2 separate regions of the Homo sapiens genome follow, and region 1 is linked to region 2. The links come from fine-mapping of genetic effects on gene expression. A gene starts in region 2. The other region holds a variant in brackets. All regions are shown on one strand. Distances are between the middles of the regions.

Region 1 (8,324 bases), 34 kb after region 2:
AGTTCTAAGTCTTTTGCCTTAGCTAGCTGTGGGTTTTATGTAGATGTCCTTTATTAGGGTGAGAAAGTTCCCTTCTATTCCTAGTTGTTGAGTGTTTATTTATTTTTGTTATGAAAAAATATTAGATTGTCCTTTTTTTGCATCAGTTGAGATGATCATGTGATTTTTATTTTTATTCTGTTAATATGGTATATTACACTGATTTTTTTTTTGTATGTTGAACCACCTTTGCATTCCTGGAATAAATCCCACTTGGTCATGGAGCACAGTCATTATTTTTGTATGTTGCTGGATTTGGCTTTTTAATATTTTATTTATTTAATATTTTTATTTATTGAAATTTTGTGTGTCTATACATGAGGGATAGTAGTCTGTAGTTTTCTTGTGATGTCTTTGTGTGGTTTTGGTGACAGGTTATGACTGGCTTCACAGAATGAGTTCTTTCCTCTTCTATTTTTTCAAAGAGTTTGGGAAGCATTTGTGTTAATTCCTTTTTAAATATTTGGTAGCATTCACCAGTGAAGCCATCTGGTCCTGGGCTTTTCTTTGTAGGAAGTTTTTTGATTACTAATTCAATCTCTTTGCTTACTATAAGTCTTCATATTTCTTCGGGCCTCTTTTTCTTGAGTCAGTTTGTGATTCTAGGAATTTGTTCATTTCATCTAGGTTATCTAATTTCTTGGCACACAATGTTCACAGCATTCCTTTATTATTTTTATTTCTGTAAGGCTGATACTAATGTTCCCTCTTTTCATTCCTGAGTTTAGTAATTTGATTATTCTGTCTACTTCTTGGTCAGTGTAGCTAAAGTTTTGTCTATTTTATTTTTTTCAAGAACCAACTTTTGGTTTTGTTAATATTCTCTATTGTTTTTCTACTCTTTATTTTTAAAATTTATTTCCCCCGTAATTTTTTTTTTTTTGAGACAGAGTCTTGCTATGTTGCCCAGGCTGGTCTTGAACTGGGCTCACGTGATCCTCCTGCCTCAGCCTTTCAAGTAGCTCTCTAATCTTTGTTATTTCATTTTTCTGCTTGTTTTGGGTTTGGTTTGGTTTTTTTTTCCATTTTTTAAAAGATGGAAGATTAAGTTATTGATTTGACGTCTTTTCTTTTTTATTTTAAAAAATTAGGAGTTTCTAGCTATAAATGTCCCTCTAAGCACTGTTTTAAGCTGCATCCCATAAGCTTTGGTAAGTTGAGTTTTCTTTCATCTCAAAGTATTTTCTGGTTTTCGCTGGGATGTCTTCTTTGACTTATTGGTTATGTAGGAGTGTGTTGTTTAATTTCCACATATTTGTGAATTTCATAAATTTTCATCTATTAATGATTTCTAATTTTATTTCATTATGGTCAGAGAACATACTTGGTATGATTTTCATTATTTTGAATTTATTGAGACTTCTTTTATGGCCAAACATATGGTCTATCCTGGAGAATGTTTCACGTGCACTTGAAAAGAATGTGTGTTTCTGGATGGGCGCAGTGGCTCACACCTGTAATCCCAGCACTTTGGGAGGCCAAGGCAGGCGGATCACTTGAGTCAGGAGTTTGAAACCAGCCTGGCCAACATGGTGAAACCCTGTCTCTACTAAAAATACAAAAATTAGCCGGGCATGGTTGGGCATGCCTGTAATCTCAGCTACTCAGGAGGCTGAGGCACGAGAATCGCTTGAACCCGGGAGGTGGAGGCTGCAGTGAGCTGAGATTGCACCACTGCACTCCAGCCTGGGTGACAGAGCGAGACTCCATCTCCAAAAGAAAAAGAATGTGTATACCTTTATGGTTGAATGGAGTGTTCTGTAGATGCACATAAGATCGAGTTGGTGTATGATGTTGTCCAGGTCTTCTACTTGCTGGTTGATCTTTGGTCTAGTTGTTCAATTTCAATTTGTTTTTGTATATCGTCCTTAGATCCTGCAACCTTGCTAAATTCACTTATTAGTTTTAGTAGAATTCTTTTGAAATTCCTTTGAGTTTTCTACATACATGATCATGTTATCTGGAAATAAGAACTGTTGTATTTCTTCTTTTGCATTCTGTATGCCTTTTATTTCTTTTTCTTGCCTTGTTGTACTGGCTGGGACCTCCAGAACAAATAGAAGTGACAATAGAATGGGCAATCTTGCTTTATTCCTGTTATTAGCTAGAAAGCAATGAGCCTTTCAACATTGAGTAAGATGTTAGCTGTAGCTGTTTTGTAGATGCCTTTAATGAAGTTGAGGAGGTTTGCTTCTCCTATTAGTTTTCTGAGAGGGTTTTTTGTTTTTCTTAAATCATGAAAAGTTGTTGAATTGTGTCCATTTTTTTTGCATCTATTGCATTTCATTGTATGGTTTCTGCATCTGTTAAAATTACCATGTGATTTTTTTTTACATAATTCTATTATTGTGAATTACATTGATTAGTTTTTCAAATGCTACATTAACCTTGCATTCCTGAGATTAACCCACCTTGGTCATTAAATACGTTTCTTTTTATATTGATTCTACTTGTTAATCATTTGTTAAGGATTTTTGTGTCCATGCTTAAGTGGGAAATTGTTCTGTAGTCCTCTTTTCCTGTGGTGTCTTTGGTTTTGAATCAGGGTTTTTGGAGAGTCACAGAAAGTTACAGCCACACAGAGACAAACACATAGACACAAAAACACATGGAGCACCACACACATTCACGTACAGGCACACACATTCACATACAGGTTCACACATTCACACACAGGCTCATGCATTCACACGCATTCACATGCAGGCACACTCACTCACGTGCAGGTCCACACACAGGGACACACATTCACACACAGGCTCACGCATTCTCACGTAGGCACACGCATTCACATGCAGGCTCACACATTCACACACAGGCTCATGGAGTCACACGCACACACATGCTCACACAGGCATACACAGTCACACGCAGGCTCACGCAGGCACACGCAGGCTCATGCAGGCACATGCAGGCTCACATATTCACATGCCTCACACACAAGCGCGCCTCACACACAAGCACATGCATTCACACACAGGCATACACATTCACATGCAGGCTCACATAGGCTCACACGGGCACACACATTCACACACAGGCACGCACACATTCACACACAAGCTCACACACAGGCTCATATAGACACCCTCGAGGATGCTTCAGTCCGACGCGGAGTCAGGAGAGCTCGGACTCACTGAGGACCCTGCTATGGTCTGCAGCTGTGTTCATTTATCAGCTGGGACAGTGTGGGGTGCTCCTTGGACGCTGTCTGTTTCTCCCGCTCTGAGAAGAGCCCTGCCCCGGTTACGAATCCTTCATGACCGTGATTTCTGCCGCTTCCCGGGAGTCATCAGGGTACAGGGATCCCGCCTCCTGACAGTGCCCTTCTGCGGCCCTGTCCCTGTTCTGTGGACGAGGACACAGCCATCCAGGGGTGGAGCCGTGCATTCCAGGGCCCTTATCCTGTTCAGCCACCCCTCCCTCCCACAGCGTCCCCTCCCTGCCCCACCTGGCATTGGCCCCAACCCCCAGCGCCCTTCTTGGTGGCGGGTGTGGACTGCACAAGCTTGTGGCGATGGAAAGCTGGGCTGGGGCCAGACTTGGTGAGAGGCCACGAGAGCTGGCACTGAGGGGCCCTCGCAGTGGGATGCCCTGCCAGGCTTCTGGGGCCATGTCCCTCCTGTGGCTGTCCAAGCCCCACAGATGGCGATGCAGTGTGTACGTCCTGCAGCTCCTCGTGGCCTGGCGAGTCACAGCCTGTCCTGTGTTGATTTTGCTGCTCAGCAAGGG[A/G]TGTGGGCAGATAGTGTCACAGTTATTTATCAGGAGGCAGAGAACCCCTGGCAGAAGTGGGTCTTGGGGAGGCTAGACTCACTAGAGCCCCAGCCTGGGAGCTGTGGCTTGCTGGCCTGCAACCGTGGACCCCAGCCCCTGGGGGCCCTGGAAGCCTGTTTCTCCATGATCAAGGGCCGTTTTTTGCGAGTGTTTGCAAGGGAGGAAGGGCTTCCTGCAGGATCTTCCCGTGTGATGTCTCTATGGGCTTTCTCCTGGGACAGGGACCCATCAAAGGTGGGAAGGGAGGGTGGTGCTGTCCGGGGAGGTAGGTGAGGGGACCACAGTCTGAGGTCCAAACTGCAAAGGGTTCACCCCGTAGCCTCCTCCCTCCTTCATTCCCTCCTTTCTTTTGTTCTCTCCCTCCTCACCTCTCCATTCGTTTTTTTGGAGCTACTGGGGCTGGAGCCGCCTCCTGGGATTGTGGCAGCCTTGGAAGATGGGTCCTCCAGTGAGAGCCTCGGGGCTGGGAGGAGAGGCCCAGGGTGCCGCAGTCCCAGTCCCAGGGTCATGGGGGGCCCTCGAGCGCGGGGGACCCTGGGGCCTCTGTGCAAGGGATGGCTCTGGGGCCCTGTGCTGATGGAGGACTCTGTGTTTACCTAATGAGGGGGTGCATGGGGGTTGGCAAACAGCCCTTGACTGCTGGCGGAGGCTGTCGGCTTGGGTGGCTTCCAGAGGCCCCTCAGCCCTGCATACCTTCCTCCCGGGCTCCAGTCCCGCCTCCCCCACCTTCTCGAACACAGACCTGCAGCGACCCTGAACAAAAGGAAATCCCTAAAGCTAATGTCCATGGGGGCTGGTGGGAAGTGAGCAAGAGTGGGGGTGGGGTCAGGGCCCTCGGAAGCAGGGGTCATGCGGGAGTGGGAGTGTCCCCCTGCCTGCCCCAAGCCCAAGGGGAAATACCTGAGTGAGCCCTGGCCCGTAGGAGGCGTGTGAGGAATGTTCCAAAAATCCTAGGCTGAGTGAATGAGGCCCTCACCCAGGCAGGGTCTAGGGCCAGGGACAGAAAGGCTTGTCTGAGGACACACTGGGAGCCAGCCCGTCTTTGGGTGACCCCAGACGTCACCCCAACCTGGATTTCCAAACCAGGTCCCCCAAGGCTCTGGCCCTGAGCAGGTGGAGGAGGGGAGGGGCAGGCAGACACAGTGTCGGCTTGGGGGAACGGGGTTGGGGGTACGGCAGAGGGACGGTCCCACATCTAGAGGCCAAATTCAGGACAGCCTAAAAAACACCCTCCGGAAAAGGCAGCCCAAATCATCTCATGTGCTTCTGAAATTCTTGCATTTTCCCCCTCAAAATCTGTCCTAGTTATGCTTGAGATCTCCTGACCCCAGAATACTTTTATTTATGACAGAAAATTCATCTCCATGGCAACGCCTTAGGAAGCTGCAGCCTCAAGATTATAACTTCCCAAGCAATGAAGACAATAAATGGATTTTTCACAAAACGGCTAAGAGCGACTCTGGCAAGAACCGGCCCCTCTCTGCAGTCTGGGGAGGGGGGGTTGGAGTTGAGAGGGGTGAGGGGACAGAAGGAGTCCCTAGGGCTGAAGTAAAGCCCACCAATGTGGTGGGTCTGAGGGAGGAAGCTTCACATTGTCTGTGTTCCGGCTTTTAAAGAGCAGCGCACTTAACCCCTTCGTCAAATCAAACATGACCCTGGGTTGCCCTAGAGGCCCTGAGCGAGCATCACCACATCAGGCCTGGCAGGCGCCTGCACACTGCAGTGTCTGAGCCCCTCAGCCACCTCCAAAGCACACATTTGTGCCTTGTCTTCACTGTCTGAGAAACAGGCATGGAGGATGAAGGAGGTCTCCTTGTCCCAGGGAACCACAGGAGCCTCTCTCTGGCAGCCTTTAGGGATCCAAGGCTGGAAACCCCTTTGCAAATAGCTTGGAGCAGCTTTCCAGGCTCAGCCCAAATTCCACAGTGAGGGGGCAAGTACTGGCCAGTTCCAGCAGAGATACTTCCTCAAATCAGATGGTGCGCATTGCAGGGGCCTCAGTTGGACATCAAGGTGGAGCCATCCCCCTGGTCCTAGTTCCTGTCATCCATCCATCCACTCATCCATCCATCCATCCATCCATCCATCCATCCATCCACTCATCCATCCATCCATCCATCCATCCATCCATCCATTTTTTAACCCATACCCGCGTATTTCACCGCCAGTCTTCCCATCCCACCCATGTTGTGCAGCCCCTTTGTCCATGATACCGAGGCTGTCCCTTTATCCCCGCCCGCCCAATATCCCACGGGTGGGGGGGCCAAGGACTGGCCCAGGTCCCCGCCAAAGTTCTTCCTCAAAATCAGGATGGACCCATTGGCAGGGGCCTCAGTTGGATATCAAGGTGGAGCCATCCCCCTGGTACTAGATCCTCTCATCCACCCATCCACTTATCCATCTATCTATCTCTCTATCTATCCATCCATCCAACTATCCGTCCATCCATCCATCCAGTCATGTGTCCAACCATCCATCCATCTTCTATCCATCCATCGAACTATCCACCCATTCATCACTTACCCATCCATTCACTCACACATCCATCCATCCATCCATCCATCCATCCATCATCTATCAGTCCAACCAACCATCTATCATCCATCCAAGTATCCACCCACCCACCCATCCACCCATCTGTCCAACCATCTATCATTCATTCAACTATCCACTGATCTACCCATCCATCCATCCATCCCTCCATCCAGTCAGTCATGTGTTCAACCATCCATCCATCTATCATCTATCCATCCATCAAACTATCCACCCATTCATTCACTTACCCATCCATCCATTCACACATCCATCCATCCATCCATCCATCCATCCTTCCATCCATCAATCCATCCAACCATCTATCATCCATCCAACTATCAACACACCTACCCATCCACCCAACTGTTCCAACCATCAATCATTCATCCAACTATCTACTGATCCATCCATCCATCCACCTATTTATCTGTCCATCCAATTATCCACTCACTCACCTACACATCCATCTACCCATCATCTACTTACCCTTTCACCCTTCCATCCACTCATCCATTCATTCATCTATCTAACAATCTATCATCCATCCAACTATCCACCCACTTGCCTACCCATTCACCCATCCGTTTATCCAACCATCAATCTGTTCAGCCGTCTATTATTCATACAACTATCCACCAATCCACCTATCCATCCATCCATCCACCCATTCATCCATCTATCCATCCATCTATCCATCCAACTGTCCTCCATCCAACCATCCATCCATCCATCCATCCATCCATCCATCCATCCATACAACATAAGTTCTTGAGCACCTAACAGGGACCTGTCACTCTGCCAGACACCATGAATTTCTTGCCTTCCTGGAGCTAACCATTAAGAGGGAAATTTAGACATTAATCATACACAAAAAGGAACATAATCGTAGACTGAAGTAAGTGCCTGAAGGAAATGACAGCAGTGACTAGTGCTGCTTGGGGGCAGATGGGGTGTTAGATGCTTTAGGTTTTAATTCTCACAACCACCCATGGGTAGGTGCTGCCAGAGACCTATGCTTCAAAAATGGAGAAGTTGAGGCACAGGCTCAGGAAGGATCTTACACCAAATCTTGTAAGTGGAGGAGTCAGAATGTGAACTTGGCCCTTCTGAGTTTTTAATCTCTAGGCTATTCTGCCTCTCAGGTGGGTGGGGAGGGTCCATAAGGGCCCCTGATCTGGTCTAGTGGGATCTCTGGAGACTCCCCACAGTGTTATTGAACCCAAGGACCAGCAAGGGATGCAGGTGAAGCACAGAGAAGGTGGCACGCAGGAGGACCACCGCATGGGTTGTGCTCATTCAAGGCAGGAGGGCACTAAGAAGCAGGACCAGCCCCAGCGGTGGGGAGGGGAGGGTGGGGAGGGGAGGAGGTTGGGGAGGGGAGGAGGGTGGGGACAGGAGGAGGGCGGGAAGGGAGGGAGGAGGGTGGGGAGGGGAGGAGTGTGGGGACGGGAGGAGGGCTGCCCACCGTCCTGGCCCCCCAGAGGCACCAAGCCCTGCAGATGAGCTGCGCATGAGAAGGAGAGAGAGATTTATTAAGAGCGGTTCGCCGTCAGTATCCAAACCTTCACAAGTTAGACAGAGTCGGTCTTCACTGGAGGGGGCATTCCTGGGCCCAGCTGCTCTTCAGAGCCTGCTGGAAGCAATTAATTAGCGGGACCAGGTACCTGTGTCCTGCCGGGCTGGCCCCACCTCGGCCTTCCTCTGGAGCTCCTGCAGCCCCAGGGAACCTGTCCCCAGCTCACGGATCTGAGATCTGCAGGGGCTCACACTTAAACTGTGGTGCCCTCTGACCTGGCCTGATTTCCATGGGAGCCCATGGCCTGAGGGGAGAGGAAGGACAGTGCCAGGCTTCGGAGAGGGGCTGTTTTCTTTTCAGGCTCCCTGGAGCCCTGGCCAGCTGCCTCCCCTCCCAGGTTCCACCTGGACTCCTCCCTGCCCTCCGCAGGGCCCTGCCTGGCCCTCTTTTCCTATCAATC
Region 2 (8,324 bases):
GGCGCTGGGGGCAGAGGCCAGGATTTGGGTGCTCAGCTGGTCCCCCCACCCCCAACCCAGGTGCAGGCAGGTGGCCAGCAGGGCGCTTGCCCAGGGCACGCTAGCGCAGCTTTTCCTGGGCAGGTGGGCAGGAGGGAGGCTTCCCGACAGTGGAGGCAGCTGTGTGCAGTGACGGCAGCTGTGTGCAGTGACGGCTGTGGGCCTCACGCTTTTCAGATGAGGGAACAGACACCCAGGGCAGTCTAGGGACAGAGCTCACCAAGGCCAAGGTCAAGGGGCAGAGAGCGGAGGGAACTGGCCTCTGCCCCCCTCCCTGCACCTTGGAACTGGGGATCCAGGGGGTGTTGGCTGCCGCCCCTACTCCTGGGTGGCCACAGCGTCTTTCCTGTTCCTGCCTGTACACCCCACGTACAAATGCCCCTGCGAATTGAGGATAGTCTATATTTACCGAGGTTGCAGAGGTACCCCTGGGGTGCTGAGCCCCGCTCCAAGTCTTCGCTTAGAGTTGATGCGTGAGTGTCCATGAAATTATACAAGGAAAGAGCTTGGCACCTGGCGCCATCGACGTCGCTGTAAATGTCAGCCGTTACTACTACTACTAAATAACAACGACGGCGATCGCTGCGTGCCTGCTGGTGCCAAGCCCCGGAGGGGCCCCGGACACGCAGCCTGGGTGGGGATGGGTATGAGGGGGCAGCGCTGGACTCGGCGAAAGTTTCTTCCCCTCTCCAGTCCCCTACCCAGAGGAATGGCCAAGGCCTTTCCCGCCCTCCCTGGGTGCCAGGGTCTTGGGGAGGGGCGGGAGGCAACCAGTCCCGGGCAGACGTCCGGCCACCCGCCCCTGCTGCGCGACGGCCCCCCTCGCTCGGCCTATTTGGGGCACCTGACTCACGGTAATTATGAGCCCGCGGGCACGTCGGGGCGCGCCGGGAGAGGCCGGATGCACCGGCTCCGGGGGCGACCGGACATCCCAGGCCGCCAGGTGCACCTTGCTTCCCACCAGCACCTCCCCGCACCCGCCGGGAGCTCCCCGCTGCTTCCGCCAGGGGCCCCGGGCTCACCTCGGGGCGCCCACGGACTCCCAGACGCGCGCCTCAGCATGGGGTGCGAATGTTTCGGGGGCGGCGCGCGGGGCGCGTCTGCCTCCCGCACAAAGCCAGGCTCTGTCCCGGGGTCAGCGCCTCTGTCTCCCGGGCCTGGGCGGGGACGCCCACGCCTCCTCCGACGCGGGAGTATATTTAGCCTCATTATCAAATGTTTGCAGTGAACTGTGTGAACCGACTAATAGCGGCTGGAAGTGAAACTCGATTCCTGGCCAGAAAGAAGCATGTGACCGCCCCCGTCTGCAAGGATCGCGGCAGGGCGGGCGGGGCAGGTGCCGCAGCCTCCGCGCGCAAAACCCGCCGGCGGGGCCCGGGTCGCACCGTCCCCTCCTGGGCCGAGCACCTGAAACCCACCTCGTCCCTCCGTCCCCCTCCCCAGGGGCTGCAATGAGGACGCTGGGAGTTTGAATGGAAACGAAGGCCGGGGAGGGGGGTCCGCGCGGGCGTGGGTTTTTTATCCAAGTCGGTGACCTCTTGGTTAAGTCAGCCCTGCGGTTTCAACGCCCAATCCCCCCAAAAAAGCCTGTGGGGGTCCACGTCTCCTTGTGTCTTCCGGGGATCCGGCGGAGAATGTGGCGGGGCCGGGCAGGGGGGTCCCAGTCCCACGCCGGGTGCGTCGTGCCCCGAGTCTCCCCAGAAGGCGGCTGTCGCGCGGCTGCACAAGTTTTCGCCTCCCTCGCGCGGCCGCTGTTGTTGTGGTCGCCATGGCGACGGGTCGCGGTTTTATTTTTAATAGCGGCCGGCGATTAGAGAGATGCCTGCACCGCTTTCGCCTAAGCTCTGCGTCCCCCGCGGGTGAAGCACCCACGCCCCGCCCCAGCCCCCGCCTCGCTCCAGCGCCCCTTGCACGTCCCCAGGTGGCCCTAAACTCTAGCTGGGCGCACCCGTAGCTCCAGGCCGGGCAGGGGAGCCGAGGGAAGCAGCCATCTAGGCCCTCAGAGGCGGCGAGGACCCCCAGGATCCCTCAAGCTGGGAGGGACGGGTACCCCATCCCCAATACAACGCGACCTTCCTCCTTGCCTTCCACACCGTCTTACCGAGTCCTCTAACCCCACAGAGGTGTCCTCGGGCCCCCTCTGCGCGCGAGCAGTCCGAGGCCCAGGAAGACAGGATGCGCGCCACTCCGGGATAACTGGCCGAAGAATGAGGCCGGGGTCCGGCCTGCGTCCTGGCCCTGCGAGTCCGGCTCTTTCCAGAAGCCATGCAGTGGGTGTCCCCTCCCAAGCCGCAAGTTCCCCCTGGAGGGACAAGGCCTGGCTTTAAGGGGCTCCTCCACGTTTCCAAGGCTCCCCTGGTTCTGTCCCGGTCCCGCTTGGTCCTGACCACCCAGAGGGCATGCTTGACCGCGGGGGTCGTGGTGTGGGGCTGCGGCCAACGGAAGGGAGAGACGTGGGGAGGGGGCCTGCAGGTGTGTGGAAGGGCGCGTGTAGACGCGACCCACTGGGAGCGGAGGGAGAGGCGTCGCTCCCCAAATATTTGGGGGAAGGGGAGAGCCCCCGAAGCGCTCTCCGGATTCGGCCTTTGAAATGCTAGAGCTGGCCTAGCTGGGGATGAAAGACCGCCCGCGGGGCTGCGCCTTAACGGCCTTTGTCTGGAGGGAGGGCGACCGCGACGGGGGCAGGGGTTTAATCGACAGGGTTGGGGGTGACGGCTGGGCCGGGCGGGATTCTCCGCTGCTCACCCAAGGAAGCGTCTCCTGGGCTCCAGGGGCCTAGGCCGTCTAGCCTCGGGGTCTGCACAGCACGCCACCCCGCTGGACCCGGTACCAGGACGCGTAGACCCCCTGGCAGGGCACTGACGAGCACCTGGACCTGTAGTCAGGGTCCAATCCCTCCTGGTCTAGGGAGGCGAAATCCATCCAGCCCAGGCGCACCCGCCCTTTCTCGGCGTGGGAGCCGTCTAGCCACGCTCAGACCTCGGCCTCCGCGCGCGTTCCTCCCCCGCATCGCGCTCTGAGCTGCGCCTCGGCCGGAGGTGGCGCTCTGTGCGCCCCACGGATCCCGACGCGGGAGGCTCAGAACCCGGGGGACCCTCACCGGTGGCTCCTTTCCCTTCCATCCCCTCGACTTCCCGGCTCAGGGCGCGGCCCTGCCTTCGGCGCGGGAGTGGGGGACTGGGGGGCGCGGGGTCCCAGGGTGGGGACGAGGCGGGCTGCAGGCCCTTTCCCCGACTGGAGCTCGCTCCCAAGTGGAAATGTGGGTGGAGGGTCCTCATTCAGATGCCCCAGGCCTCGGATCCTGGGCGGGGGCGCGTGGCAGCCGCCAGGTGAGTGCCCCAAACCCGCCCCCCTCCTTCCCCAAAGACTGACTCCCCCTCCTTTTATGGAGAGAGGAAGGCTGGGGCCCTGGATCCGAACCGTGGAGAGCGGCCGGAGCGCCGGGGCGGGGGCGGGGACCGGCTCTCTGGCCCTTTTTGGCGCAGCAGCTCTGGGCGCTGCCCGCTGCCGCCGCTGGGGCCCGAGAGAGGCGAGCCGGCGACGGCGGCGCTTCTGCGGCGGCCTCCTCCCTCCCCACCCGGTGCCGCAGGATTGCAGCTGGCACTGGAGGGTGGGCAAGCTCGAGGGAGGGGCGCGGAGCCCCGGCGCGGAGCCGGGCGCGGGGCTTTGATGGATTTAGCTGCTTGCGCGAGCGCGTGTGTGCTCCCTGCCGCGGCGGCGGCGCCCGGGCCCTGCCGGGTCCGCACGAACCCCGAGCGCTTCCGAGGTGCGGGTCCCAGGCCCGGAATCCGGGGGAGGCGGGGGGGGGGGGCGGGGGCGGGGGCGGGGGAGGGGCGCGGCGGCGGCGCTATAACCCTCTCCCCGCCGCCGGCCGGCTCCACACGCGCGCCCTGCGGAGCCCGCCCAACTCCGGCGAGCCGGGCCTGCGCCTACTCCTCCTCCTCCTCTCCCGGCGGCGGCTGCGGCGGAGGCGCCGACTCGGCCTTGCGCCCGCCCTCAGGCCCGCGCGGGCGGCGCAGCGAGGCCCCGGGCGGCGGGTGGTGGCTGCCAGGCGGCTCGGCCGCGGGCGCTGCCCGGCCCCGGCGAGCGGAGGGCGGAGCGCGGCGCCGGAGCCGAGGGCGCGCCGCGGAGGGGGTGCTGGGCCGCGCTGTGCCCGGCCGGGCGGCGGCTGCAAGAGGAGGCCGGAGGCGAGCGCGGGGCCGGCGGTGGGCGCGCAGGGCGGCTCGCAGCTCGCAGCCGGGGCCGGGCCAGGCGTCCAGGCAGGTGATCGGTGTGGCGGCGGCGGCGGCGGCGGCCCCAGACTCCCTCCGGAGTTCTTCTTGGGGCTGATGTCCGCAAATATGCAGAATTACCGGCCGGGTCGCTCCTGAAGCCAGCGCGGGGAGCGAGCGCGGCGGCGGCCAGCACCGGGAACGCACCGAGGAAGAAGCCCAGCCCCCGCCCTCCGCCCCTTCCGTCCCCACCCCCTACCCGGCGGCCCAGGAGGCTCCCCGCGCTGCGGGCGCGCACTCCCTGTTTCTCCTCCTCCTGGCTGGCGCTGCCTGCCTCTCCGCACTCACTGCTCGCGCCGGGCGCGCTCCGCCAGCTCCGTGCTCCCCGCGCCACCCTCCTCCGGGCCGCGCTCCCTAAGGGATGGTACTGAATTTCGCCGCCACAGGAGACCGGCTGGAGCGCCCGCCCCGCGGCCTCGCCTCTCCTCCGAGCAGCCAGCGCCTCGGGACGCGATGAGGACCTTGGCTTGCCTGCTGCTCCTCGGCTGCGGATACCTCGCCCATGTTCTGGCCGAGGTTGGTGCCGCCCCCGCGCCCCGTCCCTGCGCCGGCTCCTCCGGCGCACACCCCCCGCCGGCTGGGGCGCCACGGGCTCTGCAGAGAGCGTTTTGGTTCCTGCCAGGGTGGTCGATGTTTAGATTTTCCCAACTGGGTTCTATTTTCTGCCATGCCTAAGTGTGTGTGGGGAGTTTCCAGCGTGTTGCGTCGGTCGCTCTGCCTCGGGGGGACCGGGGAGCAGCGAGGTGGACGAGTGGGCAGAAACTTCGGGGGGCGCAGTGTCCTCTCCGGGGAAGGGGAGCTGGGGCGCAGCGGGCGCTGCAGCAGCGGGGTGCGGGGAGCGGGGAAGGGGGTGTGTGTGAGCCGGCGGAGCCTGGGGAGGAGAGAAGGGCGGCGGATAAATAGGTAGGGGCGGCTGCTGCGGAAGCCCCTGGCCGGGCAGGGTGGGCAGCGCCAAGCTGCAGCCCTCGGTTCCCAGTCCCCAAGCCCGGCGGGGCTCAGGGCCGGCGCAGTCCCGCCCGCCCGGGCCTGCTTACAGGTGGCTGAGCGAGGCGAGCTGGGGCTGGGCCAGGCGTCCGCACCCTCCCACCGCGGCGTCCCCGCCCCCCCATCCCCATCCCCATCCCCATCCCCGGGAGCTTTGCTGTGATGAATGACTTTCCACAGCCCCCGTCGTGGGAACTTAGTGCTTCAGGCTCCCCAGCGACCCCCGACTCTCCTTAAAAATCGGGGAGGGGAGTGGGGGAGGCCAGAGGTGAGGGTGGTCTCCGCAGGGCACGGAGAGCTGCGCGAGGTGGAAGTTTAACCCTCGCTTTCCCTGGAGGCTTCTTCTCCCGGCCGCCGGCTGGATTTGGGCGTCTTAGTCGGCGCTAGGGCCGCGGCTGGGCCGGAGCCCGGGGTGGGGCGAGTGTGTGAGTGAGATGTGTGTGCGCGTGTGTGTGTCTGCGCGCGCGTGCGTGTGTTTGTGAGACGGAGAGACCTCTCCACGGGTTCGGCCCGGGATTCCGGGGCGTGAAATTTAAGCCCTGCCTGGATTAAAGTGTTAGGGCTGCCGTGACTCTCGCCGACCCGTGACGCATTTTAACTTGATCTTTCTAGATGTTGATCTCACTATTAAATCAGAAACTTTCGGCCCCCTCGCTGCCCCCTAGACCTTCTGTAACTGACACCCCGGGTGGAGGGGCCGGAGTGCGGGGGCTTTTGTCTGAAAATATAAAGGGGGGGGGGCTTTGATTTTGCAAAGGGCGGAACATGGATGCGGGTGGAGAATTTGGGGTCTCTTCCAGCCCCACCCCCGGCTTCTGGTTCCAGGGCCGGGGCGAGGGCTCCGCGGGGGCTGGGGCGGGGACTGCGGCCGGCGCTCGCGGGGTCTCCTCGGGCCCGGGGCGGCGGCGCTCCTGGCGGCCGGGGGCGCGTGCCGGCGGGGTCGGGGCCGCGGGCGCTGACCGTGTGGCCTCTGCTTGCAGGAAGCCGAGATCCCCCGCGAGGTGATCGAGAGGCTGGCCCGCAGTCAGATCCACAGCATCCGGGACCTCCAGCGACTCCTGGAGATAGACTCCGTAGGTAAATCGCGCCCCTTCCCTCCGCGCGCGGGGAGGGCGCGGGCGGGCGGCCTGTGCGCCCCGAGCTGGGGCCGGGCGGGGCGCCGCGCAGGAGCGCACCGAAAGGTCAGAATCCAATCCCCAGCCATAAGCGCCCGGGCGGATGAGTCAGGAGTTTCTCTTCCAGTCTCCACTTTCTCTCCCAGCGGCGGCCGAGGGCTGCTCGCTCGCCCCGGGATTGTTTTCGCCTTTAAGGAAAACGCCGCGTGTGTCACACAAAGTTCAGCCGCGGCCTCCGCCAGGTGTGCGGGCCCCGCGCCTGCCCTCGGGCCGGGGGAGCGGCAGGATCCGGCCCAGACCCTGGGCGCAGAGCCCTGGCCCGTGCGCCGGGCGGGCAGCCCGCGGAGCGAGGCCCCAAGGGCAGGCGCGGCTCCCGGTCCGACGGGCGGGCGGGCGGAGGCGGCCCCCGGGTCAGGGCCCGGCCCCCTCTGTAATCCCTGCGAGCTGGTGCCGCGTTCTTGCCGCAGGGCTGGGCCTCTGTGGCTGCAGAAGCCGGTGTCTTTCTGTTTTCACGACCCAATGAAAAGCCTTGGACGCATCTGCTGCCTGGGGGCTATTTTTGCGGCTCACCCTCGGGCCCTGGGGCCGGGCCACTAGAGAACACAGCTTGTTTGCAAGCACAGAGTTTTGCTGCGGGTTGGCAAGGGTTAAAGGGGCCTCTCACCCCGGGGGACCCCGGTGGACCACGGGTGGGTGGGAGGGGCGAGGGTGTAGGGTGGCCGCCCGCCCGCTCAGGGCTAGAGAGCCCCTTCCTAGAAGGCGAGGTCTCTCTTCCAGGCGTGCGTGGCGCTCTTTTCAAAATGAGCACTCGGCCTGGGAACTCCAGTCGGAGCCTTAACCTGGTTTAAAAAGGGGCTCTGCGATGAACTTGTTAAAAAGAGTAACTAAAGGCAGCAGAATTGGAAGAAGTTACGTGACATGAAGATTCTTCTCTCCCTGCAAAGGACTCTGAAAAAGGGGGGGCATGCGGGGATTAAGTGAAATCACATGGTCTAGTCATTTGGAAATTTGTACCTAATTATGGTGGTGGAGAGGCCTGAACTATTTTCGTTTCATGCCAAAACCATTTTCTAACAAGGCCGATGGTTTCTGTAGTTTCTTGACCCAGGAAATCCCTGGGCTGATCCTTATCGGGGGCGGAGGGTGGGGGGTGCGGTAGAGTTTCACTCCCACAGCACAGCTGGGCGGGGGGATTTTGACCGGATCCCTCAGTGGATAACTCTAGGGAAAAGGATCTGGCTCTGGTTTGTGGGGGGGAATCCCTTGCCTGAATCTCGCTGGTCCTGGATGGGTTTGGAAAAGTGGGGGGGGGGGGCTGCTTCCTGGAGAAGGTTTCAGGGCTTTTTCTGGGGGGGGGTGCTAGCAGAAGGGGAGGCTTGTGGAGAGCTGGGCCTCCTCGTGGGACTGGCTTTGGAAGCTGCAGGGAAATGGGCCATTCACTTTCTGCTGGGACTATTCTTATTCTGGTCTTGGCGCCCCGCCTCCTCCACCCCCACCCATTATCGCCTTTAGCATTGCAGCTTCGTGGGGTATGCTGATGGCATTCCTCACCCGGGGGCTTCTAGGTCGTAGGGTCCGAACAGAAAAAAACAAGGATGCCCCTAAGCTAGTCCTGGCCGGTTTCAAATTCCCTCTGCAGTCATGTCCCAGGAGCTCTCTCCTCCTGCCCCAGGGAATGCAGAGTGGATCTCAGCCCTCCTGTGTCCGTGAGAGGTTTTGGGGTCTGAATAGGATTCTCCTAGTGTCTGGGAGGCTTTGTGTGTGAGAATATGGGGGTGGCATCTACCTCCTCTCTTGCCCCTGGTGGGGGACCTTTTGTAACATAGGGGGGCCTCCTTGGTCCTGTCCAGTCCCCTCCCCAGGTGTGGCTGAAAACAGAACCAGAGAAACCCACAGTCTCTCGCCTGAGGACAGG

Alleles and levels. Alleles are on the strand shown, and positions count from the first base shown. SD is a standard deviation of normalised expression in the study named.
In carriers of allele A in region 1, the expression in unexposed skin of the gene that starts at base 3,919 in region 2 tends to be lower than with G alone (small effect, 0.32 SD a copy in GTEx).

The links.
Region 1: its variant is fine-mapped to the expression of PDGFA in unexposed skin (GTEx, PIP 0.98). The same link has a PIP of 0.9 or more in sun-exposed skin.

What each region holds. Positions count from the first base shown.
Region 1 is chr7:481,040-489,363 of GRCh38, reverse strand. No RefSeq gene overlaps it. Among named protein-coding and RNA genes, the nearest start is that of PDGFA, 35 kb to the left of the region's middle. The variant A/G (reference allele first, on the strand shown) is at 3,772.
Region 2 is chr7:515,441-523,764 of GRCh38, reverse strand. It overlaps PDGFA (platelet derived growth factor subunit A), which reads left to right and starts at 3,919. Exons shown (of 6, transcript NM_033023.5): 1 at 3,919-4,826; 2 at 6,275-6,371. The coding sequence starts at 4,764. It overlaps PDGFA-DT (PDGFA divergent transcript), which reads right to left and starts at 3,374. Exons shown (of 3, transcript NR_033963.1): 1 at 449-3,374. RefSeq lists silencers at 815-1,124, 1,445-1,584, 1,705-1,784, 3,450-3,789, 3,890-3,979 and 3 more and enhancers at 1,440-2,361, 4,206-5,127, 6,050-6,972, 7,642-8,143.